Linked DNA regions of Homo sapiens: region 1 is linked to region 2. The links come from fine-mapping of genetic effects on gene expression. A gene starts in region 2. The other region holds a variant in brackets. All regions are shown on one strand. Distances are from middle to middle. Region 1 holds the start of ESYT1 (extended synaptotagmin 1). Region 2 holds the start of MYL6 (myosin light chain 6).

What was found.
Region 1: its variant is fine-mapped to the expression of MYL6 in whole blood (TOPMed, PIP above 0.99).

Annotation. Positions count from the first base shown.
Region 1 is chr12:56,119,845-56,130,425 of GRCh38, reverse strand. ZC3H10 (zinc finger CCCH-type containing 10) reads right to left here. Exons shown (of 3, transcript NM_032786.3): 3 at 2,912-9,915. The coding sequence starts at 9,863. The coding sequence ends at 8,559. It overlaps ESYT1 (extended synaptotagmin 1), which reads right to left and starts at 2,159. Exons shown (of 31, transcript NM_015292.3): 1 at 1,717-2,159. The coding sequence starts at 2,106. RefSeq lists enhancers at 1,111-1,170, 1,351-1,450, 1,771-2,020, 1,826-2,487, 3,927-4,186 and 1 more and a silencer at 2,221-2,290. The variant C/G (reference allele first, on the strand shown) is at 4,118.
Region 2 is chr12:56,148,126-56,164,075 of GRCh38, reverse strand. MYL6 (myosin light chain 6) reads right to left here and starts at 5,717. Exons shown (of 7, transcript NM_021019.5): 1 at 5,672-5,717; 2 at 5,365-5,392; 3 at 4,346-4,489; 4 at 3,928-4,101; 5 at 3,756-3,833; 6 at 3,406-3,450; 7 at 2,497-2,689. The coding sequence starts at 5,674. The coding sequence ends at 3,422. MYL6B (myosin light chain 6B) reads right to left here and starts at 11,489. Exons shown (of 8, transcript NM_002475.5): 1 at 11,445-11,489; 2 at 9,984-10,203; 3 at 9,236-9,263; 4 at 8,878-9,021; 5 at 8,484-8,657; 6 at 6,531-6,608; 7 at 6,341-6,378; 8 at 6,094-6,194. The coding sequence starts at 10,157. The coding sequence ends at 6,350. It overlaps MYL6B-AS1 (MYL6B antisense RNA 1), which reads left to right and starts at 5,851. Exons shown (of 3, transcript NR_186043.1): 1 at 5,851-5,893; 2 at 6,131-6,442; 3 at 13,091-13,280. It overlaps SMARCC2 (SWI/SNF related BAF chromatin remodeling complex subunit C2), which reads left to right. Exons shown (of 29, transcript NM_001330288.2): 29 at 311-1,717. The coding sequence ends at 387. It also overlaps LOC124902942 and LOC124902943. RefSeq lists enhancers at 2,205-2,825, 2,826-3,448, 4,419-4,488, 4,529-4,598, 6,609-6,718 and 1 more and silencers at 5,269-5,448, 5,819-5,988.

The DNA.
Region 1 (10,581 bases), 31 kb after region 2:
TCACAGAGTTTGGGGGCTGATGTCTCTCTAATAAGGGGAGCTGACAAGGTAGAGGTCACGCTGTTGCCCTGTGGATAGCTCAGGGACGTGGTGAAATGACAGCTGCTGAGAGAGAGAGGAGCGGGAGGAGGAGAAGGGCGCATTCTTTCTGGAGGGGGAGGTCCAGTCAAATTGGAGTTTGAGGGAATCCTGGGATTTAAAAAGTCCTGGTTCCAGGCTGGCCGCGGTGGCTCGCATCTGTAATCCCAGCACTTTGGGAGGCCGAGGCCGGCGGATCACGAGGTCAGGAGTTCGACACCAGCCTGACCAGCATGGTGAAACCCTGTCTCTACTAAAAATACAAAATTAGCCGGGCGTGGTGGCGCGTGACTGTAATCCCAGCTACCCAGGAGGCTGAGGCAGGAGAATCGCTTGAAGAGGCAGAGGTTGCAGTGTGCCAAGTTCGGGCCACTGCACTCCAGCTTGGCAACAGAGCGAGACTCCGTCTCAAAAAAGAAAAAAAAAAAAGTCCCCTTTTCCAGCCTTCTCAACTCCCCTCAGACGGGGCTTCTAGAGCAGGAAGGTGAAGAGGGAAGCAAGTCCTTCCTTGAGTCAGGGAGGGGCCAGAAGACCTAATTAGGCCTGGCTTTGTGGGTTTTTTGGGGTGTGTGTGTGTGTTTTCCTCTATCTTTCTCTGTGTGACTCCTTTTAAGGGAAAGGACACCTGCGCTTTGTATTGGGGGTAGGAAGATTGGTTTCCATGATGATGAGGAGGAGACAAACACTTGCTGCCTAGGCTACAGGTCCCCTAGAGCCATTTGGCCCTCTTTCTCCTCCCCTTTCCAGTCCAGGGCCTGGGAAGCTTGGCTGTGTCTGTCTAGTGTCAATTTTGATTCCTCTCTGCTGCCATTCTCCCCCTAGACTGGCACCTCTGCTGGGAGGGGCCGGGTAACCGGCTTCGCCTCTGCAAGACTAGAGAGAAGGCATCCGCCTCAGCACAGGAGACGCGGCCGCCGCAGAAATAAGGGTCTCTGCCCCAACGGAACAAGCGCAGCCCACAGTCCGGAAAAGGGTGTGGCCGGCCGAGGAGTGCGGGGGAGTGTGCGCCGCGGGCACTGCAGCAGCCGCACCACCTCCTCCCGTAGCCCTCCCTCCGTCCAGCAGCCGCCTCTGCCGCGCTGCAGTCTGGCGGCTGGAGGCTTGAAGGTGGCTGCCCGAGGGTCGTCCAGGGGCCGGGGCTGGGTCCTAGCGGGTACCCGGGGATAAAAGCGAGAAAAGAGAGAACCGTATGGCTTTAAGTAGGTAAAAAGTCTCGAGGAGGATGGGAAAGACTAGGGAAACCTTTGAGAGGTAACGGGACCAGGATTTCCAGGAGCAGCAAAGCCGCGAGTGGCACCAAAAGCAAGAGGGACGTTCAAGATGGCTTGGCTAGGAGGGAGAGCTTCGGCTGAGACGGGGTCCCCAGATGTTATTACTGCTGTTGCCCAAGTAGAGGAAGAAGTCCTGATTCTGTGGAAGGATCCAGTCTGGGCATGCGAAAGGGTGGGTGGGGAGAGTGAGCAGTCGGTTCCAAGAGTGGCGCGTCCAGCAGGCAGGCGGCTAGCGGGGAGAGAGGGGAAAGTCTGGGGCCCACTGTCCCAAGGCAGGGAGCTGACTCTAGGCATAAGGAGGAAAAGCCCCAGATGGAAGGGGTGGAAGGGGGCTATGCTGCACAGAGGACCGAGGGTGGTCGCTCACCCAGGCAGGTAGCTCTCGATGACTCATATAGAGAGTTTTCGCAGTGAGCTGCTCCTCGTCGTCCAGTAGCTGCCTCGCTGCTCGAAGGCTCCGTTCTTTCTCGTCGCGGACCCGGCGCCAGCCCAGGTAGAGGGCGAGGCCGAAGAGCACGAAACCCACGCTGAGTCCCACTGCCCCGGCCAAATACACAGGTATCAGCACCAGCAACCGCCTCCCGAATGAAGTCAGCACCGCCAGGGCCTCACCCGCCGCGCCAGGGCCAGCAGGTTGGCCCCCAGAACCTGGGTCTGGCTTTGCGTGAGCAGCGGGGGGCTGGTCAGTGGGGTCGGAGGGAGCAGAGGGCTGGTCCATGGGGCTGGGGCTGGGGCCCTCTCCTGGAGATCGCTCCATTGTGCCACCTCTGGGAGGATCCGCCCGACCCAGGGACTGGCTGGAGGTTGCCTAGTCTTGCGATCAGCTCCCCCAGGCAAAACGTGATCCCCGGGATGGAGGAGGGGACTTCAAGCCACGCCCCTCCTTTCTGGCGATTTGGGTTGGTCCGCGCTGCACAGACCAAGGTGGAGTTAAAAGGTTGAAACTCCACCCCTCTTCCGCGGGGAACGGACCGGGTTTCGGATAGGTAGGGCCTCCCTGATTGGGCCCGAAGGCCAAGATGGGAGGTCTGAGATGGCGGGAAAAGGAAGAAAGGGGCTCAGGGGCGGCATTCGATTGGTAATAAAGAGGAGGAGGCGTGGCGCACCATTTCAGGAGAGGCGGGACCAAGAGCTCCCCCACGTGGGATTGGAGTGCCTGTGGTATGACGTCATGCAGAGCTGCACCGCCAATTTCTTGGTTTTGGAGAAAGCCCAAGTTGCGAAGTTGAGGGGTTGTGGAGCTTCAGGATTTCCCTCTACTCATTCGGTTTGGCAGGATTTGGTCTGGGATATATATATATGTTCTTTTGCCGACTTTCTCTAGTTTTCATACTCTAAGCACATTCCTTATCCTTCAACTTTTTCCTGCCTGCCCTTACAAAAGGAAAGGATACGATCGTATTTGGAATGAAAGTGTTTGAAAACTAACCCCGTCTATCCCGTCCCTAATCCCCTACCTTCTTTGTGTGGTGTAACGACTGACCCTGGAGAAAACTGGAGAGTCAGAGAATTACAGAGTTGAGATAATCCAGCCTTCAGGGAAAGGGGGAAAAAAAGCAGAGTGAATAGAAAGTGAGGCTTTATTTCTTTTTGGAAATTTCCAAGAGTTAGTAAGTCATCTCTATCTTAGAGGATGGATGTAAGACTAGTTGGCTCCAAAAGGGAGGGAGGCAGCGCAAATTATTACATTTTCCAATAATTTTCTGACCCTGAAGAACTTCTAGGACACTAAAATGAGGGATCAAGAGTAAGGGAAAGACAATTCCTTTTCACATTTGCCTGAGTTAGAAGGAAGGTTTGCCATACAGTCAGGTGCAGAACTAGTGCAGTCCCACAGTGTACGGTGTAGGTTTAGGAAGGAAAAAGTGCAGGGTACACCGATGACTATTGTTACTAGTTAACTGGCGTTAGAGGTGGAGTGTTGTCCTAGGATCTAGGAACTAGACTAATTGGAAGTTGATGAGGGAAGTGTTGGTCATAAGATGATTACCTTTTAATGCAGTATATATGGGGCATATTATGTAAATCTGTCAGATGCAGCAGAAGAACTGGGGTTGATCACTGGGAAGAAACTAGCCATTTCTTAGAGGAAGTGTCTTACAGGATGAGGCCTGCAGCTGATAAATTTTATCTGGTTCTGCAGGGCATAGATTTCATCAGCCTGTGTTTACCAAAGCTGCTTAAAACCTGTCCCTGCTCAGCCTCTATCACTTAAATTTTTTCACTTCCTTTTCTCTACTTCCCTAGGGCTAGCAGTATCTTGACTGCTTCATTCAGTTTGCAGAACTATTTAAGAAACAATATTCTGTCTCCTATATCCTCCATATTCCCAGAGGTAAGCAGGTAGAAAAGGGAAACAAGGAAATTGGAGGAATTATGAGTGACCTGCTCACCAACTGATAAAGCAGAACTACAGAAGGAACATGGATGAACCTTAGAGAGAAACCTCTCTATAAACTGAAATTTGCCAAGCACTGGAGTAGGCAAGGAGGTTCCTGAGAATGGGGGAATGGAGAGGGTGACCTATGGAGGTTCTTTTCCAAACTTCTCCCTTCCTCACCTCATCCAGATCATCAGAAATTATATAGGGGATAAAACTTCATCCTCAGGAAGTTCTTGTCCCAGCTGGGGCCCAGGAGCCACAGGATCAGCAGCTGCAATGCAGTTACCAACACAAGTAAACAGGGTGGGTCCCCGCCCACTGACAATTCTGCTGCCCAGGTGCCACCTGGTGGTGATAAGCAGTAAGTGGACAACAGGAAGGGATG[C/G]CCATTTGTTAGAGGAAGTGTCTTACAGGATGAGGCCTACAGGAGGAGAGAGAGTAAACTTCCTGGACTTGCAATCTGCATTTATATGTAAACCATAATCACCTCCAAGAGGCAGAGGGTGAGATACGGTACTCTGATCTCAGCTCACAAAGATGGGAAGGGCAACAAGATTTGAGGAAACTCCTTCTGTATTCTTTATTCCTCAAAAGTTACTGCCAAGCCAGTCGCGGTGGCTCATGCCTGTAATCCCAGCACTTTGGAAGGCCGAGGCAGTTGGATCACCTGAGGTCAGGAGTTCAAGACCAGCCTGGCCAACATGGCGAAACCCCGTCTCTACTAAAAATACAAAAATTAGCCGAGCATGGTGGCATGTACCTGTAATCCCAGTTACTCTACTTGGGAGGCTGAGGCAGGAGAATCACTTGAACCCGAGAGGCGGAGGCTGCAGTGGGCCGAGATCACGCCACTACACTCCAGCCTGGGCAACAGAGTGATACTCCGTCTCAAAAAAAAAAAAAAAAAATTACTGCCAAGTAGTGATCGCTTTGTTGGATGGCTATATCATTAGAACTTTCTTTTGTCGTCTGGAGTGAGACTGCCTGAATAGATTCCTGGCCCCATTCCTTACTTGCAGAACCCTGGGCAGGTTACTTTTTAAGCCTGCTTTCTCCTCTGTAAAATGGGTACAATAATATTACCCATTGTGTCAATGAGATGTTGCATGTAAAGTGCCTAGCACAGAGCCTTGGCTTATATTAAGCAGTCAACAAATGCTAGCCGGCTGGGTGCGGTGGCTCAACGCCTGTAATCCCAGCACTTTGGGAGGCCGAGGTGGGCGGATCACGAGGTCAGGATATGGAGACCGTCCTGGCTAACACGGTGAAACCCCGTCTCTACTAAAAATACAAAAAGAAAATTAGCTGGGCACCTATAGTCCCAGCTACTCTGGAGGCTGAGGCAGCAGAATGGCGTAAACCCTGGAGGCAGAGTTTGCAGTGAGCAGAGATCGTGCCACTGCACTGAAGCCTGGGCCACACAGCTAGACTCCGTCTCAAAAAAAAAAAAAAAAAAAAAGTTAGCCATTATTCTAGAAATCCCTTTTTACTTCCTGTGTAGCAAACAGGATCTTCCTCCACTGGGCAGCCCTTCAAATATTTGAAGACTTCTATTTGAAGCTTTCTCTTGCCAGCCTTTTTTTTCTAGCAACACACTGGTTTGTCAATGGCCCTCTTTAAAAATTACATTTAGAACAACACACTACTAAGTGGTTACACTTAGGCAGAACATAGAACTGCTGTATTTGTAATCTATTACCAAGGTTCTACTACCCTTATGGAGCTCCTAGAAAGATGCCTAGAACATAGCAGGCTCTTAATAAATATTTATAAATGGACATCTTGAGGGCTAAGATTCTATTTTTTTGCAGCCAACTGGAAGTCCCAGTTTGTTCTCATGTGAATTATTGCTAATATAAATCTCTAACATTGTTCCTCAAACTAGTTCAAGATCTAAGCAATTTTTTAGTGTGAGAGTGCTCCAGTGTTTTAGTCAATTCAAGTTACAGACACTTTGAATATTATTTAGCTCTTCCTGTGTTACTGTTGATAAATGGGTTTTTTACATGTTTACCCGAGTTGGGTTTTTTCTTTTTACAATAAAACATAGCCCTTGGGCTTATCACTAGAGAACAGAGATTTCTCTAACATAAATGCGCTAACCAACACTAAGTACAAGTGTTCAGTTTGATTCTACCAAATGCTACTATTTTTTTCTCATTATTTTTTAACCAGAGCCATTTGCATGGAAAAAATGCTACGATTAACTGACCCGTAATTTTCCTCTTATCTGTGATGACTTAGCAGGTGAGAGAGAGGAAAGTAGCTCCTGTAATCTGGGAACTGGCCTGACACAGCCAGGCTTCAGAGCTGTTAGGGCTGACCTGGTGCTCACAGGTAGCCAATGAGTTCTCTTGGACACAAACAATCTCACAAAACACCAGCATCAGACAAGGTCACTCAGTGACTGCGATGAAGTGAGACAAAAAACAAAATCACTACACAATTTTGTTTAAGCACAAAACAAGGTCAGTGTGCAAACCACAAAACAGCAAACATCCCCTTTCCCAGCTAGTGAGTGACTTCATCATCGACTGTGCTTAGGTTCACTTGTCTGCCCTTCTTCTAGACAAGCTACCCAATTATCCTGGATTCCCTTAACAGCACCCAATCCAAAAGAACACCCACTTTCTTGAATCTTCCCCAAAATCACTTAACCAAAGTCTAAGTTCTCTAAGTCGTTCCTAACACCCTCATGCTGAGACACACCACGTTATCCCCAATGGTGAGCCCTCCCCCTCACTGCAATGAGCATTAAACCCAACTTGCTCAATTACCAGGTGTATTCTTGGTGGTCTTCAGCTGGAGTAAATACATACAAGACATACAATGTCTAAAATTTCCCAAATCTACCTCTTTGGAGATAACCTGGCAAGGAGGAAATAAAGTCAGTCAGGATTTGACTGAGAATTCATGTTGGTATCTATGGTTACATTCTTCTCTAAATGCTCTTAAACCATCTCTTTTAATAGTCTAGAATTGCCGGGCACGGTGGTTCATGCCTGTAATCCCAGCACTTTGGGAGGCTGAGGCGGGCGGATCACGAGAGATAGAGACCATTCTGGCCAACACGATGAAACCCCGTCTCTACTAAAAATAAAAAAATTAGCCGGGCGTGGTGGCGGGCGCCTGTAGTCTCAGCTACTCGGGAGGCTGACGCAAGAGAATCGCTTGAACCCAGGAGGCGCAGGTTACAGTGAACCGAGATTGCGCCACTGCACTCCGGTCTGGTGACTGGGCAAGACTCCATCTCAAAAAAAAAAAAAAAAATTGTGTCCCAAAAAACATTAAGCTTATCAATGTGTTGTTTCTAAAATCCACAATGTTAGCCCACTTTTAGTCTTTAGGCTTTTTTTTTTAATGACTGGCCTTGACCTAGCCCACCATCTCCAATCCCAGATGTGACCTGAGTGATCAACCAGACAAGAAAGCAAGAGGTAGCAGGAGACATGATGAGGGGGAACACAATCCAGGATCACTCTCTACCCCCAAATCTACTGTCCCATTAGACTAGACACCTGAGTTGTTTTCCCTACATCAGCCGTGAGCTGAGGAGGAACTGAGGTTTGACTATTGGGGCCCCTGGCCTTACTGACTTAAGTAGATTTAAAACTTCTGGTCCTATGTGGAGACAGAGGAAAGGGATGGACCCTGAGGCTTGTGTCCCTAGAAGGACTCTCTTTTCCCAGACCTCCCAAGCCTTGAAGGCTTCAGGAACTGGCCACTGAAGGGGTGGGGTAGGAGGGACATTAACTGCCATCAACTGAGCGGCAACTGCCATCAACTCAATGGCCATCAACTCCACCTGTCCTGCTCTGTTTGAATAAGGATCTGTCAACTATGTAACATCCCATCCGCATTTCAGCAAATACACTCTCCTTACTGCCTGCCCTGCTAAATGACCCTAGGAGCCCTGGTTACTGAGGCAACCTGGGAATAGCACATACAGACAGAGACCAGAAACAGATGGGACTATTTTTAAAACTAGACTGGGTGGCTCCAAAGCTTTTACCCCATAAAGTGCCTTCCCCAAAGCCCCATTTGGTCTTGTTCTGGGTCCCTACCCTTCTTCACTGGCTTCTATCCATCTTACCAAAGCTATGTGAGGCTGGGGTCTTTATCCCATTTTGGCATGAGATCTATTTACTGCTCCCATCTTCCACACAGAATAGCTAAGCAAGTTTTCACTGCCTCCATTTGTTAAAAATAATTGTTCTTTTATTTCTTTGGAAAGTAGTGGGCCCTGCCCTATGGATTTTCAGGTCAAACTAGGGTAATGAATGCTCCCCTAGTCTTTGGGCTGGAGCACTATGGTCCCAGCTTTCCCAGGGCCCAGAAGCAATTCCTGTATTGTCCAACCCAAGCAACTAGGACCCAAATTGTCTGAAGGCTCCTATCAGGCCTTCTCTCCTGACCACCCACTTCCCAATCTTTCCTGGCTTTCCCTCTGGGCAGGGTATTTTTTTCTTCTAAAACCAGTGCTGGAACCTGTGCTGTGCAGAAGAGAGGACAAGACGAGGGATGTTCCCAAATTCCCATAAGAGGACACAGCCCCTCAGTCAGTCCTTCCTCTCTGCTGGCTTCAGTCTGCACTCCTCTGCAAGCCCCCACTGTGAGGCTTGAAGATGGACAAGAGGACCCTCATAAAAGGGAGGTGAGAGAAAACACACCATCCCAACCCCTCCTCAGGACATACTCCTTGTAGTCTCTTGTCCTAGTTCTCAAGGGAGCCCTTCAGACAGGGATGGGGAAGGCTAGGTGAGTGGGCAAGGGCCCCCTGACCCCAGCCCTGCGAGGCTATACCAGGGGAGTGTCCATTAGCCCCATCAGTGTGGCATGGCCGTGATGCGCATGCTCTGGGAAGCGATAGGGTAAGTCACCATGGGAGTGGTGGTGTGGCTCATTGTGATTCCTGCCAAGGGTTGGGCCATCGATACAGCCACAGGGGCCACAGGAGCCACAGATACAGCCACAGGAGCCATGGAGACAGGTGGAGGTGCCATTCCCTGGGCAATTGTTTGAGCCAGGGCAGCTGACAGTGGCGTGATCTCTGGGGTCAAGTGTGGGGGTGGGGGTGGTGGAGCAGCAGGAGGTGCAGCATTAGTTGGGGGAGCAGCTGGAGCTCCAGCAGGGGCCACCAGTTCTTGCTGGGACACTGGACGAGGCTGTAGAGCCTGGCTGCTGAGAGTAGTGTGAGTCTGGGCAATGCCATGGTTAAAAGTGGCAACAGTGCCCACAGTGGGGGCCAGAGTCTGCTCAGTCGCTGGTGCAGTGGAGCTCAGGGTTATGACCTTGGCCTGATTGCGGAACTGAGCATTTTGTTCCAGTAGTACCTCATTGGTGGCCAGCAGGTTGCTGACCTGCTTCTTTAACTCCTCTACCCGCTTCCTGAGCATGGCATTCTCCTCCTCTAGCAGTCTGCACTCCACCCCTCGCGGTGGAGCCAAACTATATTCATATGACTCAAAATGAGGGCCATCAGGGGGGCAGCATCCACCTCGCCGGCGTTTTGGGCCTGGCTCATGGTCCTCAAAGCCCCTGTCAGGAAGGTCATAGATATCATAGAGATCATGACGTCGTCCTGGGAGGACTGAGCCTGTTGAGCCCCCACCAGTGCCTCCTCCACCCCGAGCATCAAACTCAAAATCCCGTTGCAGGTGACGGAACTTGCACTTGGCTCCTCTCTGACAGTCACCCTTGAGAAAGTCACGGCAGATAGGGACCTCCTCCTTGCCATTTGGTAGGTCAGCCGGTGAAAGGCCAAGGCCAGCTGCTACTTTCTGCCTCAGCCGTGGGGGAAGCTCTCCTGTCTTCTTATAGCCATCCTCATCCTCCTTGGAGCCATGGATGAAACGGCAATTTGGGCGGCTACACTCCTTGTTCTGGAAGTCATGGCAGAAGATGAACTCGTTTTTGCTCACCCCCAAGTTGGACACCTCGCTCATGTCTGGGTGGCGATATCGGCAACGCTTGCCTCGCTTGCACACATTCCTCAAGAAGTCTCTACAGATGGCATCTGAGCTGGCCCCGCCACTGCCTACCCCTGCCCCACTGGCCTCCTCGCTGCCACCACCTCCAGGGCCTCCACCGCTGCTCCCGGTACCGTTGGCATAGCTGTCCCGGTCAGGCATCCTGGTCCCGCCCAACTCAGGGTTTTCTTTATCTTGCCACTCTTGGTGACCACTACAAAAGAGGAGAACTGTATCAAACAGGAGTCCTCCAGGGAGATCCCACTCTTCCTGACTATAAAGCAGGTGGCCCAGAGGGGCAATGGCTTTAGAGATGGAGAATCTAAGGGATAAGAATTCTGGCTGAAATGTCTGACTCATCAAAAGCCCCTCCCAGGGTTTTGTGCACCTGGTCTGGGTCAGAATGATTCACACTTGCCTGGCTAACGGAGGAGGGATAGGCCCAGGACGGAGCAGGGAAAAAATAGTGTTGGAATTCATCTTTCCTTTTGAGCTGACCTTATTAAAGTTGTGGAAGTGAAATTAAAACTGCAGTCAGTATCTGAATAGTCTGGAAGGAAACTGGGAATAGTGCCCAAGATGGGCTACTGAGCTACTAGGGCTGTAGAAGATGGGACACTGGTAACAAAACTTCCTTAACCCCCTTTCCTTTTCCTCAGGTAAGGGCTCTGTACACATCAAATCTCTAGAAGCCAAGAAATCCTGGGTGAAGAGACTGGTGTCACCAGCTTGAGGGGAGTCTCAAAACCTGTCATATTTTAGTATTCCCTCCCAGCCATCATCACTGTCAACGGCAGAGAGGTAAGCCCCTTCTATTTCAGGATAGGAGTTCTAAGTTAGAGTCTCCACTTCTAGATTTCCTAGGACAAACCATTTGTGA
Region 2 (15,950 bases):
CATGGAGCAATCCTGTGGCAGAGAGCATCTCAGTTGTAAACTTGAAAAGCAGCTGTTTGCATGATGATTGAGTGGCATCCCTTTGCTTATTCCTATCACGTTCAAATGCCCCATATAGAGAGTCTTTCTATATGTTTTTCTGAGTATGAGGTAGAAAAGAGTGTTGGGAACAGAAGTTGAACATTATGGGTACCTCATTCATCCACCCAGCCACTGCATGCCATGCCCGGTTCTGTCTGTCTGTGGTGGTCTGGGTCTGGAGCCATCTCTCCGGCGTACTCTAACTGATTTATCTTCCTTTTCTCCACAGACCCAGGCACCCCCCTGCCTCCAGACCCCACAGCCCCGAGCCCAGGCACGGTCACCCCTGTGCCACCTCCACAGTGAGGAGCCAGCCAGACATCTCTCCCCCTCACCCCCTGTGGACATCACGGTTCCAGGAACAGCCCTTCCCCCACCACTGGGACCCTCCCCAGCCTGGAGAGTTCATCACTACGTAAGGAAAGCTCCTTCCGCCCCTCCAAAGCCCTCACCATGCCTAACAGAGGCATGCATTTTTATATCAGATTATTCAAGGACTTCTGTTTAAAAGATGTTTATAATGTCTGGGAGAGAGGATAGGATGGGAATGCTGCCCTAAAGGAAGGGCTGGTGAAAGGTGTTTATACAAGGTTCTATTAACCACTTCTAAGGGTACACCTCCCTCCAAACTACTGCATTTTCTATGGATTAAAAAAAAAAAAAAAAAGTAGATTTTAAAAAGCCACATTGGAGCTCCCTTCTACCCACTAAAAAATAACCAATTTTTACATTTTTTGAGGGGGAGTGAGTTTTAGGAAAGGGGAATTAAGATTCCAGGGAGAGCTCTGGGGATAGAACAGGGCGCAGATTCCATCTCTCCCCAAGCCCCTTTTTAGTGACTAAGTCAAGGCCCCAACTCCCCTCCCCCACCCTACGCTGAGCTTATTCGAGTTCATTCGTACTAATAATCCCTCCTGCGGCTTCCTCATTGTTGCTGTTTTAGGCCACCCCAGCTCAGCCAATGATTCCTTTCCCTCTGAATGTCAGTTTTGTTTTTAAAAGTCACTTGCTTAGTTGATGTCAGCGTATGTGTATTTGGTGGGGAAAACCTAATTTCGGGGATTTCTGTGGTAGGTAATAGGAGAAGAAAGGGCACTGGGGGCTGTTCTCCTTCCTTCCCTGGGCTGTATCCATGGACTCCTGGAAGGCACAGAGAAGGGAGCTATAAGAGGATGTGAAGTTTTAAAACCTGAAATTGTTTTTTAAAGCACTTAAGCACCTCCATATTATGACTTGGTGGGTCACCCCTTAGCTTCCTCCCTCTCCCACCAAGACTATGAGAACTTCAGCTGATAGCTGGGGGCTCCCCAGATGAGGATGCAGGGATTTGGGAGCAGTGGAAGAGGGTGCCCAACCTTGGGTTGGACCAACCCTTGGCTCGCAGCTCAACTCTGCTTCCCGCATTCCTGCTCCACGTGTCCCAGCTTCTCCCCTGTGACGGGAAGGCAGGTGTGACTCCAGGCTCTGCACTGGTTCTTCTTGGTTCCTCCCACCAGGCCCTTTGTTCCTCATGTCCCCATGTTTCTCTCCCTCTGCGTCTTAGCACCTTTCTTCTGTTCAAAGTTTTCTGTAAATTTTCTCTTTTTTTCTTTCTTTCTTTTTTTTTTTTTTATAAATTAATTTGCTTTCAGTTCCATCTTGTGGGTGCATTCTGTGTTCTTACCTGTGGCTGTCAGGCAGGGGGATTGTGATGGGAGCAGCTTTCCTGGAGTCCTTCACAGCGGCGTTTACCTGGGCCGAAAGACACTCTGCAAGCCACACGGCCTACAGACACTGCGCCTCCCCACAAAACACGAACGGCAGCACAACTGTCGAGACTATGTGCTGGTATAGGAGCAGAGGCTCTCACCTGCCCTAAAAGCTGTTTAAGACTTGGAAGGACATTCCCACAACATGGAATTTTGTATCTCTGTCCCTTCAGAAGTAGTGGTTTCACTCCTTCCCTTATTAGAGAGGAGGCAAGCCCCTTACCTACTTTTGTTATAATTGGCCCTTCACCCTGCTGAGGTGACGGACAGGCTTAGGCAGTGCTAATAATGGCCTGGCTTTAGCTCCAATAAACACTCCACAGGCTTCCCCACAAAAGGCCTTATTGGGAGCTTGGGAGGGCGGGGGCCAGATTTAAGGAGCTGGAAGGGTAGGAGAAGACAGCCTGATATGGAATGGAACAGGGATGGCCAGCCTTAGTCCTACTGGGATCTATGGCTTTCCTAATCTCCCAAGAGGTAGCTTGTGTAAGATGGATGAATGGGGCCAGTAGTTTTTAAATGAAGCCCAGATGGCTAGTACAGGGCCTCCCCCAGCTTTCCTCAACCCCTGCACCATTGATTGACCTTGGACTCTGCCTCAGGGCAGAAATCATCACCATCTCACCTTCTTCCCCTTTACCCTGTTCAGGAAAGAAAGAACCGAACCGAGGGCCCAGAGAGCAAGTTTATTTGGTGAATGCTGACGGCAAACATCATCCAAGAGAGACAAGATGGGAAAGTTGCTGAGACAAGAAAGCCTAGGGAAACTTTAGGCTAGATACAAAATTCACACAGGGAAAGGCACGGACTCTGGGGAGACTGGGAAGGTCCTCAGCCATTCAGCACCATGCGGACGAGCTCTGTGGAAAGGAAAGGTGGGATGAGCCAGGGAACAGGGCTGTGGAGGGGTACGCCAAGGGCCAGGGGACTACCAGACTGCAAAGGTAGCATAAGCGGGAACATGCCCACAGCAACCAACCCTGGGGTCAGTTTGCAGAGGAGCCACCTTGAGTCTGACCAGTTCTCCATGCCCCTAGCTCCCCTCCCAGCAGCTGTTAGTCCCCCACCCAAACCTAAGCAGCAAGAACACAGCAGAGGCAGAAAAGTTCTCCACTACACCTACAGCTACTGTCAGCCACTGGCGGGAGGAGAGGACAGAGTTTTGGGTTAGGGTACCTCCAAGCTGCCCAGCGAGGGAAGGGGAAAGGACTGTTCAGCTATAGCAGCAGAATGGGGCAGGCAACCCATACCCCTCTATGCCAGCTACCCATGCTCCAGGGCCAGAAGGTCACCCTAAAGCAAGACTGGTATACAGGCTGGTGAGAGTTCCCAGACACCAGCACCCAGGGCCGCATAAGTAAAACCTCAGGGCCCATTCTAGAGGTAAGGAGGTACTGTACCCCCAGGTTGTCTTCCTCTTTGAGGAATCCCTCCCCTCCCTAGTCAGCTCCATGCAGAAACATGCCAGGAGGAAGTCAGATGGTAGTAGGGTAAGGGCAGGGGATAAAGAGCACAGGTTGGGGAAAAAAGAAACACTGGGGAGATCAACTAGAGGAGAGGCTGGGAGGAGCCGTACCCGCCCCATGGGCCCGTCACCCCGACAGGATATGCCTCACAAACGCTGCAGGAAGGAAGAGACATTCATGGTGAAGACAAGACAAAGACATGGGGTGAGGGGTCAGGCAGTGGGGACAGACATTCCATTATTTCACTTCTCATTCCTTCCCACCCTCTACAATACTACCCCCTTCCTTTCCTGTTATACCGCCCTGACCTCCCACTCCTGGGCTGGGCTGGGCAGGGCCCTGCACCTTGCCTCCTGGCTCTTTTTGGAGCCCAAGTCCAGGGATAGGGAAAGCCCCAGACACTATACTTGACCTGCCCCATATGGCTGCTTTCTCTGAGAAAGCGCAGTTCACCTCTTACCTTCATAGTTGATACAACCATTGCTGTCCTCATGCCCTGCCACCAGCATCTCTACTTCTTCCTCTGTCATCTTCTCACCTGCAGGGGGAAAGAAAGCATTTTTGGAATTGGGTGACAAGTGAGGTACCTCAGGGTGCCATCTCAGCTCAAGGACAAGGACACAGAACCTTACCCAGTGTGACAAGAACATGCCGGATTTCAGCACCCATGACGGTGCCATTTCCTTCCTTGTCAAACACCCGAAGTCCTTCGACATAATCCTCATAGGTGCCCTGGTCCTTGTTCTTGGCCACTGTCTGCAGCATGGGCAGAAAGTGCTCAAAGTCCAGCACCTTCACATTCATCTCTGCCATAAAGGAGGTGGAAGTGTCAGGCCAGAGAAGTAACACAAGTTCTCAGGACAGGGGATTATAGAGACCTCAACTGAACAGAGAGATGACAGATGACTCCCCACTAAAAGCAAGGAAATCCATGGGATTTGCTAATCCAGACTTGCTTGAGTTTGGGGCCTATGAAGATAAAGGGAAGCTCTTAGCTGAAGAACTGTGGGCCCATGACCACACTGAGGAGTTGTTCTTTAGGCCCCTCACCATCACTCTTGGGGTTCCCCAGGACCTTGAGCACCTCGGCGTTGGTAGGGTTCTGGCCCAGGGCCCTCATCACATCCCCACACTGGCTGTACAGGATCTTGCCATCACCTGTTCGGTCAAACAGCTGGAAGGCCTCCTTGAACTCTGAGGATTCAGATGAATGTCAACACAGGATTTGAGGGTTAATCCAAACCCTACCTCAGAGCTCTGCTGCCCATTCAACTTTGATCATGCTGAGGAAACGAGATATCTGCACCAAACTGTACACCAAAGTCTACTTAAGAGGGCTCTATTTCTCTTCCTCCCAACTCAAGTGTTCTATATAGAGGCTTCCTCCCCTTCTGGCAGCCTGGTAACATCCATTTACACAACCCCTCTGCCTGCGGCAGGCCTGCCAATCTCCACTGCTGCTACTACACTTCTCAGGGCAGGAATTCGCCACCGCCCAGTCTCAGTCCTGTCCTTATAAGGAAGTGGGAGCAGCAGCCTGGGACTAGGGTCATCCCAACCTGCCACTTCGCACCCCTCCAGTATAAAGAGAACTTCCAGAGGGTATAGCTACAGTCATATCCTTAGCAAACTCCCCTGTCTTGTCCCCATCTGCACAGAATATCAGGTCACTGCTCTACAATCTTCACAACTGCAAGCTGGGAGGGCGGGGACAGTTATCACAAGAGGAGAAAAGAGGCAGAAGTAGCTGATTAAAGGACAAAGGAAAGCAGGCAGCTTTATACACCCTCCCGAGACCCCACACACAGCAGGCATTAAGTGACCAAGTTTTTTCACATACCCACACCACCTAAAACTCACCCAGTGCTTGGGATCAGATCTAGAGTGGAAGGGGAGGGAGGAAGAAAGTGAGAAAAGAAAATGGAGGATCCAGAAGAAGAGAAAATAATCCAGGGGGTAATCTCATGGGGGTGCTAAAGAGATGACAGATTAAGATTAGAGGATAGGTGCTGGGGGGAGGGTGTCCCTCTCCCTAAGGGTGACCTCGGTAGGGATCAGAGATAACCTACCTGCGGTCTGGTCTTCGGTGAAGTCACACTGCTCAGAGAAGAGGGAAGTGGTCAGCATCTGAACGCCAATCCCCCGAGTTTCTATCCCAGCCCCACAAACTCTGACCCACAAACTCTGACCCACAAACTCCTGTTTCAGGCTGCAGACTCGCTTCCCCGCAGGGCCCCAGTCTTTCCAACCCCACCTCCAACCTTTCGGGTCCTCAGATTCCCTTTGCCTCCTACCCCTGCCTTCTCCTCGCCCCCCACCCGTCTCTTCCTGCCTCTCGTCCCCAATCCTGCCCGTCTCCCAAGACCTGGGCCCCACCATCTTGACTGCTCAGCTCTCCGGGACCTTTTCCTGCAGTAATGGCTCCGACTCTCGGCCCAACCCTAGTCTTAGTACGTCCCGATGACGTCACCCTCAGAGGACTCAGCCAATAGGAACCGTGGCCTGGGTTTATGCAGACGATTGCTACATTAGTAATGACTTGGGCGGGGTCCGCTGTTCCTTTCTCCAGCGCCACCTGGGCACAGAACCCGCTCGGAGGTGGGGGGGGTCGTGGGGGGAGGTGGGGGGGCGGGGGTCGTGGGGGGACGTGGGCTGGGGCACAATGAATCTGCACCTCCCAACAGCAGGAAGATCAGAGGATTGGAAGAGGAGAGAGCCCTCTTTTCCCGCCCTCTCCTCCTAGCACCCTCCCCGTCTCCCGCTGCTCCCCCAACCATGAAAAAAATAGCAGTCTGAAACCAAGAGAGGAACCCAGTCTTTATTTTGAAACAATAGGTGGCCTCCTGGTGGCTGGAACGTGCTTTCGCCTGCGGGGCCCAGTGTCCGGACCCCACTGGATCTGTGGAAAAAAACCAAAGTTGCGAAGCGCTGGAGCCCGTGCAGCAACCGGACAGCAGAATGAACTCCGCTGCTTTTCTATGTTGGCTGAGAGAAGGGCGGGAGACTTGCCTCGTAAGGCGCGGCGAAGGGGTGGGAGGGCCCTACCTGCAGCACTCAGACGCTTAGGATGTGTTTCAAGAAGGCTGCAGAGAGAGGAGGCAAGAGGGGCTTCAGAAGCAGGCCTTTGGATAATACATCTGACTCTAGGTAATCCAGGGGTGCCCCCGCCCACACGCGGCAAGACGCCAGGCTGCCCTCCTCCCTCGGCCCCGCTCCCGCTTTTTTGTCCCCTCACCCTCGTAGTTGATGCAGCCGTTGCTGTCCTCGTGTCCTGCCAGAACGGTCTCCACCTCCTCCTCAGTCATCTTCTCTCCTGAATCCCAGACACAACGTCTGAGGCCCTCCTTTCCCTCCTTCACTCACCCAGGCCACGCTTTTCCTTTTTTTTTTTGAGACGGAGTTTCGCTCCTGTCGCTCAGGCTGGAGTGCAGTGGAGCGGAGCGATCTCGGCTCACTGCAACCTCCGCCTCCCGTGTTCACGCGATTCTCCTGCCTCACCCTCCCGAGTAGCTGGGATTACAGGCGCCCGGCTAATTTTTTGTATTTTTGGTAGAGACGAGGTTTCGCCATGTTGGGCAGGCTGCTCTCAAACTCTTGACCTCAGGTCATACACCTGCCTCGGCCTCCCAAAGTGCTAGGATTACAGGCGTGAGCCACCGCGCCTGGCTTTTTCCATATATTTTTGTAAACAACAATATAAACATAACAATTGTAATTTTTTTTTTTTTTTTTTGAGATAGGGTCTCCCTCTGTCACCCAGGCTGGAGTGCAGTGACATCATCATGGCTCACTGCAACTTCCACCTCCTGGGCTCCAGTGATTCACATCGGCCTTCGAAGTAGCTGGGACTACAAGCGTGCACCACCACGCCTGGCTAATTTTTAAATTTTTTTGTAGAGACATGGTTTTGCCATGTTGCTCAGGCTGGTCTCGAACTCCTGAGCTCAAATGATCTGCCCATCTCGGCCTCCCAAAATGCTGAGATTACAGGTGTGAGCCACCACGCCCAGCCTTGTACTTTTTTTTTTTTTAAATAGAGATAGAATCTCACTACGTTGCCCAGGCTGGTCTCGAACTCCTGGGCTCAAGCGATCCTCCTGCCTTGGCCTCCCAAAGTGCTAGGATTACAGGAGTGAGCCACTGCTCCCGGCCAGCCCATGCTGTTTTGCTTTTTTTTAAACTGAGTCTTGCTCTATCACCCAGGCTGGAGTACAGTGGCACGGTCTCGGCTCACCGCAACCTCCACCTCCCGGGTTAAAGCGATTCTCCTGCCTTAGCCTACCAAGTAGCTGGGATTACAGGCACCCGCCATCATGCCTGGCTAATTTTTGTGTTTTTAGTAGAGACGAGGTTTCACCATGTTGGCCAGGCTGGTCTTGAACTCCTGATCTCAAGTGATCCGCCTGCCTCGGCTTCCCAAAGTGCTGGGATTACAGGCTTGAGCCACCGTGTCTGGCCTTTTTTTTTTTTTTTGAGACAGAACCTTGCTCTGTCCCCCAGGCTGGAGTACAGTGGCATGATCTCTCGGCTCACTGCAACCTCAGACTCCCGGGTTCCAGCGATTCTCCTGCCTCAGCCTCCTGGGTAGCTGGGATTATAGGTGCGTGCCACCATGCCCGCCTAGTTTTTATATTACTAATAGAGATGGGGTTTTACCATGTTGGCCAGGCCGGTCTCGAACTCCCGAGCTAAGGTGATCCGCCCGCCTTGGTCTCCCAAAATGCTGGGATTACAGGCGTGAGCCACCATACCTGGCCAGGCCACGCTCTTTAGAGTGGTACCTCTTCTTCTCCCATAGCCTCAGTCCTCAAGGGAATCCTCCCCTGGTCATGGATGCCTCTTGCTTTCCATTTCACCCTAGTACTGCTGAAAGTATTGACCCACAAGGAAACAATCCCAGGAGGTTACGAGACTTGTACCAGAACACACAACCCACACGTCTCTTCCAAAATGAAAATTCAGGTTTCCCGCCTCATCCCTTTTCCTCTGCCCTCCGGATGGCACTTTAGCCTCTGGAAGAGCGAGTCCTTCAGATTCTACCCCCATAGCTCTGACCTTCTCAGTCTCCTGCCGACAACCTGCAGGACAGTAAGCCTCCTGCTAGCTCTGCTTATCTGTCCAGTCTTTCTGGCCCACCCCATCCCCCTCTCCACTCTAAAGGAGTTCTGGTCCCCCTTGCCTGCCTCACCAAGGGTGGTGAGAACATGTCTGAGCTCTGCTCCCATGACTTTGCCGTTCCCCTCCTTGTCAAACACACGAAACCCCTCCAAGTAGTCCTCATATGTGCCTTGGCCTCGGTTCTTGGCCACTGCCTGGAGCATGGGCAGGAAAGTCTCAAAGTCCACACGCCGCGACTTCAGCTCTGGAGGTTGGAGAGAGGTAAAGGAGAGGTCATTGTAGTATTACATAGGACCCAGCTCCCAACCCTACCACAATGCTTTCATCCTATTCAGCATTTAGGATATTTTCCTGCTTCTGTGTTTGACAGTTTTTGAAGTCCTGAGATCCACCTCATTCTTTTTGTTACCAACATCCAACTTTTGAAAACTAAAAACCCAAATTGTTCCCAAGGGTCCCCTCACCATCACTCTTGGGGTTCCCCAGGACCTTGAGCACCTCGGCGTTGGTGGGGTTCTGGCCCAGGGCCCTCATCACGTCCCCACACTGGCTGTACAGGATCTTGCCATCCCCCACTCGGTCAAACAGCTCGAAGGCCTCCTTGAACTCTAAAGTATAAGGAAGGGTCAGTGTAGACACTGACTAGGGTTCCCATCACCCCCAGACAGAAGGGAATTTCAGAAACTATGTGAACAGAACAAGGGAGGAAAAGAGGACTAGTATGGGAGGTTTCAAGGTCAGGACTGGGGTTAGGGGAATAGAAAGAGAATCTGACCAGGGGATTGGGGATGGGACAGTGGCCTTAGATGAGCTTCTCCTCACCCTCCAGCTGGTCCTTGTTAAACTCGATCTGTGGAAGAAAAAAGCAGGTGGGGAGAGATGAGAGTTTATTCAATCCCTCTCCCGCACTCCTCCCAACCAACTGGCAGCCACTTCTGAGGAGGGGCCCAAAGGGACCAGGCTGGAAGCCCAGCCACCTCAGTCCCATTCCCAGCTCTGGGCCTTGGGAGAATCCCAAGAAGAGGAATTACAGTGGGGAGGGTTTCCTGGGAACAGGGTTAATCCCATGCCACCTGTTTCCCTCCCTCCATTGCCCTGAGCCCTGCATCCCACACATAACTGGGGGCTGAACAAAGGCTAAATTTACCCCTGGCCCCCAGCTGTGATTGTCTAACAAGTCTGTCCTCTTCAGCCTCCCCTCCTGGAGTTCAGAGCTGCAGGCCTTTTGAATTGAACCACCAGCCAGGGGCAGGCAACAGCTCTCTTCCCTTCACCTTGAAACTGTTCTCAGAACCCAGATGTTCCCCATCTAAGAGTCCCTGCCTCCAGCAGGGGGTAAGTGAGTGTGTATGTGCTGTACACACATGATTATAGGTTAGAGGGAGAGAACAGCAAAGACAACAGCAGAGTCATAAGACTGGATGCTTCCAAATGGGGGACTAAGGGAAAGCCCCAATCTCATTCCAGGGCTCACTGATTCCCTACCTTCTAGATACCCCCTAATCCCCTAGGCTGTATCCCACCCTCAAACCACCCCCTCCAATTCTATCTTCACTTTCCAGAGACTCACCACCACTTTGGAGAGATCGACTGGAGGCTCCTGGGTTTTCTGAGGGGCCTGGGGGACAGCTGGCTCAGCTTTGGTCTTGGCTGGAGGAGCCCCTGCTGCTGCTGGCTTAGCAGCAGGTTTGGAGATGGAGGGCCCTGCTGGTTTCTTCACGGGAACATCCTTCTTGGGAGGCATGATGTCCGGTGGCCAAAGGACAGTGTGCGGATGGGGGCACCCATCTCTGTTTAAATAGCCAGGGAGTCTGGGATGTCAAGGGGCGGGGGCAGGGGCAGGGAGCCAGTTGGCTGTGGCAAAGATGAGGTAGAGGAGAGATATAACCGCCTGCCCTCACTCCCCTGGCCTCCTATGGTTCAGGACTCCTGCCCCAAGGTCTTCTTCCCTCTGTCCCCTTATCCCCAAAGGCTGACCAGAAAAGAACAATGTTTCCTTTAGGGGTAGGGGAGGAAGCCAGAGACTGCCCAGAATGAGGTAGTTAACCTCCAGGGTGAGGATAGGATGCTTGCCAGTGGCACTGAGATGGGGGTGGTGAGGCAAAGCAGGTGATCCAGCAGCTTTAGTCTTCTTGAAGGGTGGGGTGAGGGGTAGCAGCCAGGGAGGCTTGTGTGAACTGGAACAAGTTAAAGTGTGGTCTGGGAGCAATGACAAAAACAAGAAGCCCATCTGCCCAGCCCCTCCACTCCCTTCTGACCATGGCTTTGTAAAGAGCAGGGGTAGTTAACCTTAGAGTCTAATGATCCCTAATACTTGTAGTTCCTGAGCCCCCACCCAGCCAAGAACTGGAACTATTCACAGTATAAAGGAAGAATAGTCATAAAAACAGGAGTATGACATCCCTCATTGTCTCCTGTGCCCAGTGTTGTTTTAGGGGCAGGAGTGGGGGCAAAGATCAGGTTTAACATCTGCTACCCATTCTTCCATGGAAGAAACCTTCCACAAGCCCACGGTCATTCAAGACAAACAAAAGGTAGGGTGCTTGCTGAACCTGTGGGGACCCTTTGGTGGCACCTGAGGAGAAGGGCAGGCTCTGGGAGACGGCTTAAATTCCCTAATCCAAGAGGATGTGGGCGCTCCTATGGCTCCATGAGTATTCACCCCACAACCAGGGGTATAATAAAAATCCTGACTCAGGGGCCAGGTCACAAACCTTGCCAGGGGCGCTGGGAGAGAGTCCAAGTTGGGGGGCGTTTGGGAGTGGGGAGGGATTGCAGGCTACTTTTGTTCTGGGGTAAATTAGGAAAGGATTTAGGTAGCATTCTGAGGAAGATAGCAGTGATTCCACTTAGGCCCCGGGGTTGATGCTGGGTCTCCCATTCGCAAAACAGCGTCTGAATCTCATGACTGCAAATTGTCCCATTTTTACAAAATACATCACACACACACGACACACACACACACACACACACTCACGCACCCCCACTAAATCTTAAAGAAAATGGCCCTCCTCAGCCCCCAAAAACTCACCCTGCGGGGTCCGTGTCTGGGGCTGGGGAGGGGGCGGGGCATAGCGCGGCCCCCAGCCCTGAAGGGTTAATTCCGGTGGCCGCGGAGCATGCCGGGAGTCGTAGTTCCCCGCGGGCTCACGGGATGCGCCGCGCTCTAGATTGCAGTTGACGCGAGGGCGGTGGCTTCCGGCCCATGGCGGTGGTTGGTGACTCAGTGTCCTTCCAGCGCGCTTTATGTCCCGGAACTGAAAGGCAATGAACAATTTCCAATCCACCCCAACCCTAAAAACCCTGCGGGGCCCCTAGGGTATCCCTCCTACTTAACCCTGGCGGGCTCCTAGTCTCGGGAGGTGGAGGGGGCGGGGCGGCTGTTTTCCTGGACCTACTGCTGAAAGAACTCAGAACCTGGGGAAAGATTGAGGCTGCAGCAGGCAGCGTGGAGGTCAGATAGCTGGAAGCACTTAACGGCCCCGGGGAGAACCGCTGCACTCTCTTTTGCTTCCTCTCGCGGTTTGGTAGAAAAAAAAGAGGCCTCAGAGTAGTTTGTTTTTAATGAGCTGGTTGCTGAAGTAAATGTTAAAATTTGCAATTAAGCCCAGTCACCTGCCCCAGCCTTCTCTGATCGAGGTTTCCATCCTGCGGCAGCATATGCGCCATCCTCCTCGATCTTCACAGGTCTCTGAGCGGAGGGCTGGGCTTTCCAGCCCTACTTTCTGAAACTCTTATGGTCAGCATTGGAGTTCACTGGTTCCCCTAGGCGTTGATCAGAGGATGGGAACCAGCCCGGCCGGGCCCACCTTCACTCACTGGATCAGTAAATACCCTGGCGGTGCACCTGGTGTTGGAAGCTGGTGCTGCACAGGCGTGTGAGGATTAGATCAGAGCAGAAAACTCGGGCGATGGCAGGGTGGTGAGGCACAGGTGAACTTTATGGGCAGTAAGTGAGGTTCACTGGTTGGGGAAAGTTTATTGGAAAGGTAGAAATGAATTGTACGACAGAAATAACGATAATAGTAAGTTAGCAACCATTTCTGGAGGCCGCCATAGATCTCGTACCGGTGAAGGGGCTAAATTATCTCAGAGGGTGCTCAAGTGGATGGGGTTCAGACAGCCTACTCAGATTTAAATCCTGGTTCTACCAGGTCCTAGTTAGTGACCCTCAGCAGGTTTAGTTATCTCTCCTGGGCCTCAGTTCCTCATCTGTAAAATAATGATAATGGTACCTACCTCATAGGGCTCTTCGGAGGATTCGAAGTGTTATTATTGGTAAAATAGGGCCGGGCTTGGTGGCTCACACCTCCCAGCACTTTGGGAGGCGAGGCAGGTGGGTCACCTGAGGTCAGGAGTTCGAGACCAGCCTGGCCAACATGGTGAAACCCTGTCACTACTAAAAATACAAAAAAAAAAAAAAAAAAAAAAAAAAAAAAAAATAGCTGGGCCTGGTGGCGGGCGCCTGTAATCTCAGTTACTTGGGAGGCTGAGGTCGGAGAATCACTTGAACCCGGCAGGTTGCAGTGAGCCGAGATCGCACCACTGCACTCCAGCCTGGGTGACAGAGTGAGACTCCAACTCAAAAAAAAAAAAAAGTGTAAAATAGAATAGGCCTGGCACAGCATAAGTGCTGTATAAGTTTTTGTTAAATAACTTTCCTTTAATCTTCCCAAGGTATGAGGTCGCTGATATTTTCCCCATTTTACATCAATGAAGTAAGGATCAATAGGTGTTGTGAAGAGACGGAGAGGAAGAAGGAATACATTTTTAAGTGGTTATAAGACTGGGAAAGGGCCACATTATAGATGCCTTTGTGTGGCTTTCATTACTTTTGCAGACATTGATTTCAAAATATGGCTCTTGTAATTTTTTTTCTTTCCTTTTCCCATTTTTGGCATTTTGCCAAGTATGAGTGGTTATGGCATCATCTGACTTTCTAGCATTTTCTATAGAGAAGTAGTACAGGGAAAAAACGTTAAGACCCTTGCAGAGATGGGAAGGCTATCCTTCATTTTCTGTGCCATCCCTGTCTTGATCATAAATAACAGGAACTGGACGAAACATGGTCTTAACTGGGCATAGGGTGATTATATATGTGAATTATCTGTGAGAAATGCCTGTCTCTCCTCTCTCCTCTCCCTGCTTAGCATGTGATTTGTATATTCTTATTTTTCTTTGGTTTTGTTTTTTTCTAGAAATGAGGTCTCACTGTGTTACCCAGTCTCAAACTGAGCTCAAGTGATCTTCCCATCTCAGGTGCCTCCCAAAGTGCTGGGATTATAGGTATGACCTACCTTGACTGGCCTGTATATTCTTAGAGATTGCATTTTGTGGGCAGGGAGGGAGGTGAGTCCGAAGCTTGCTTGCCTTCCCTAGGCATGCCGTCCTCCAGGAACCTCCACATGTTCAGCTGTCCAGAGTGGCCCATTAGATTGAAAGAATATGGAAAGCCATTGGGGAGCTGTTCCGCAGTGCACAGGTCTATGCACACTTACCCCCAAAGTCCAAGGAAGCTAAGAGGTTGAGGAAGGAGGCTGACAAATCCAGTTTCTTAGAAATATTTAATAGGAATTTATGAACAGAAGCCATGTCTGTGTCTTGGGTAGTGGTGAGACACGATGGTGGATCCCCAGGACATCATCCCCTGGAGTAAGTCCTGACCCCAGGACTTACCACAGGGAAGGAACCTCTAGGACAATTGAAGTCTACCCTGCAGGGAAAGGCAAGAATACTCAGTAAGCCAGGCTTTATGATCAAGATTGTTTTGATCTAAGGAGAAATTATGGTAAGTACATGCTCTTACACAAAGAACAGTAGATAAAATAGAAATCTTAGAGGCATTCCCAAAACTGGGGTTAATCAGACATGAACATTCCCAGCACTTTGGGAGTCCAAAGTGGGAAGATCACTTGAGCCCAGAAGTTCAAGACCAGCCATGGCAACATAGCAAGAGACCCCAACTCTACAAAAAAAATTCAAAAATTAGCCAGGCATGGTGGCACGTGTGCCTCTGATCCCAGCTATTCAGGAGCCTGAGGTGGGAGGATCACTTGGGCCCAGTAGGTCAAGGCTGCAGTGAGCCATGTTTGTGCCACTGCCCTCCAGCCTGGGCAACAGAGTGAGACCCTGTCCTTAAAAAATTTTTTAAAAAAAGCAGGCCGGGCGTAGTGGCTCATTCCTGTAATCCCAACACTTTGGGAGGCCAAGGAAGGTGGATCACCTGAGGTCAGGAGTTTGAGACCAGCGTGGCCAACATGGTGAAACCCTGTCTCTACTAAAAATACAAAAATTAGCCAGGCGTGGTGGCAGGCGCCTGCAATCTCAGCTACTTGGGAGCCTGAGGCATGAGAATCCCAGGAGGCGGAGGTTGCAGTGAGCTGAGATTGTGCCACTGCACTCCAGCATGGGCAACAGAGGGTGACTCCATCTAAAAAAAAAAAGAGAAAGGCTGAGCGCCGTGGCTCATGCCTGTAATCCCAGCACTTTGGGAGGCCGAGGTGGGCGGATCATCTGAGGTCGGGAGTTCGAGACAAGCCTGACCAACATGGAGAAACCCTGTCTCTACTAAAAATACAAAATTAGCCAGACGTGGTGGTGTATGCCTGTAATCCCAGCTACTCAGGAAGGCTGAAGCAGGAGATTCGCTTGAACCCGGGAGGTGGAGGTTGTGGTGAGCCGAGATCATGCCATTACACTCCAGCCTGGGCAACAAGAGTGAAATTCTGTACCCCCCTAAAAAAAAAAAAAAAAAAAAAAAGAAAGGTGGAATGGGTGGGAAGTGTTATGTGGAAATAGGCTCCCAGAGAGCACAGTGGAAAAGGTTGAGAGGAAGAGAAGCAGAAGGAGATTGTATTAGGGCCCTTTAGCTGCTCTCTTCAAGCATGTTTATTCAGTATACGTTCCTTTTTGTGTTTTGTTTGGGAGACAGGAGTCTTGCTCTGTGGCCCAGGCTGGAGTGCAGTGGTGCATCTTAGCTCACTGCAACCTCCACCTCCTGGTTTCAAGTGATTCTCATGCCTCAGCCTCCCAAGTAGCTGGGATTACAGGTGTGTGCCACCATACCTGGCTAATTTTTTTTTTGTATTGTTAGTAGGGATAAGGTTTTGCCATGTTGGCCAGGGTGGTCTCGAACTCCTGACAGGTGAGCCACCGCCTTGGCCTCCCAAAGTGCTGGAATTATAGGCATGAGCCATTGCGCCCGGCCTCTGTATACATTTCCTTTCCTCTCCCCCGAGAAACAGGGGCTTGCTCTGTTGCCCAGGCTCTGGATGCAGTGGCACAATCATAGCTCACTGCAACCTCAAATTCGTGCGCCACCGTACCTGGCTATTTCTTATATTTAGTTGTTATAGTTTTTGTTTGTTTGTTTGTTTTTTGAGATGGAGTCTCACTCTTGTCACCCAGGCTGGAGTGCAGTGGTGCAATCTTGGCTCACTGCAAGCTCCGCCTCCCGGGTTCATGCCATTCTCCTGCCTCAGCCTCCCAAGAAGCTGGGACTACAGGCGTCCCACACCCAGCTAATTTTTTGTATTTT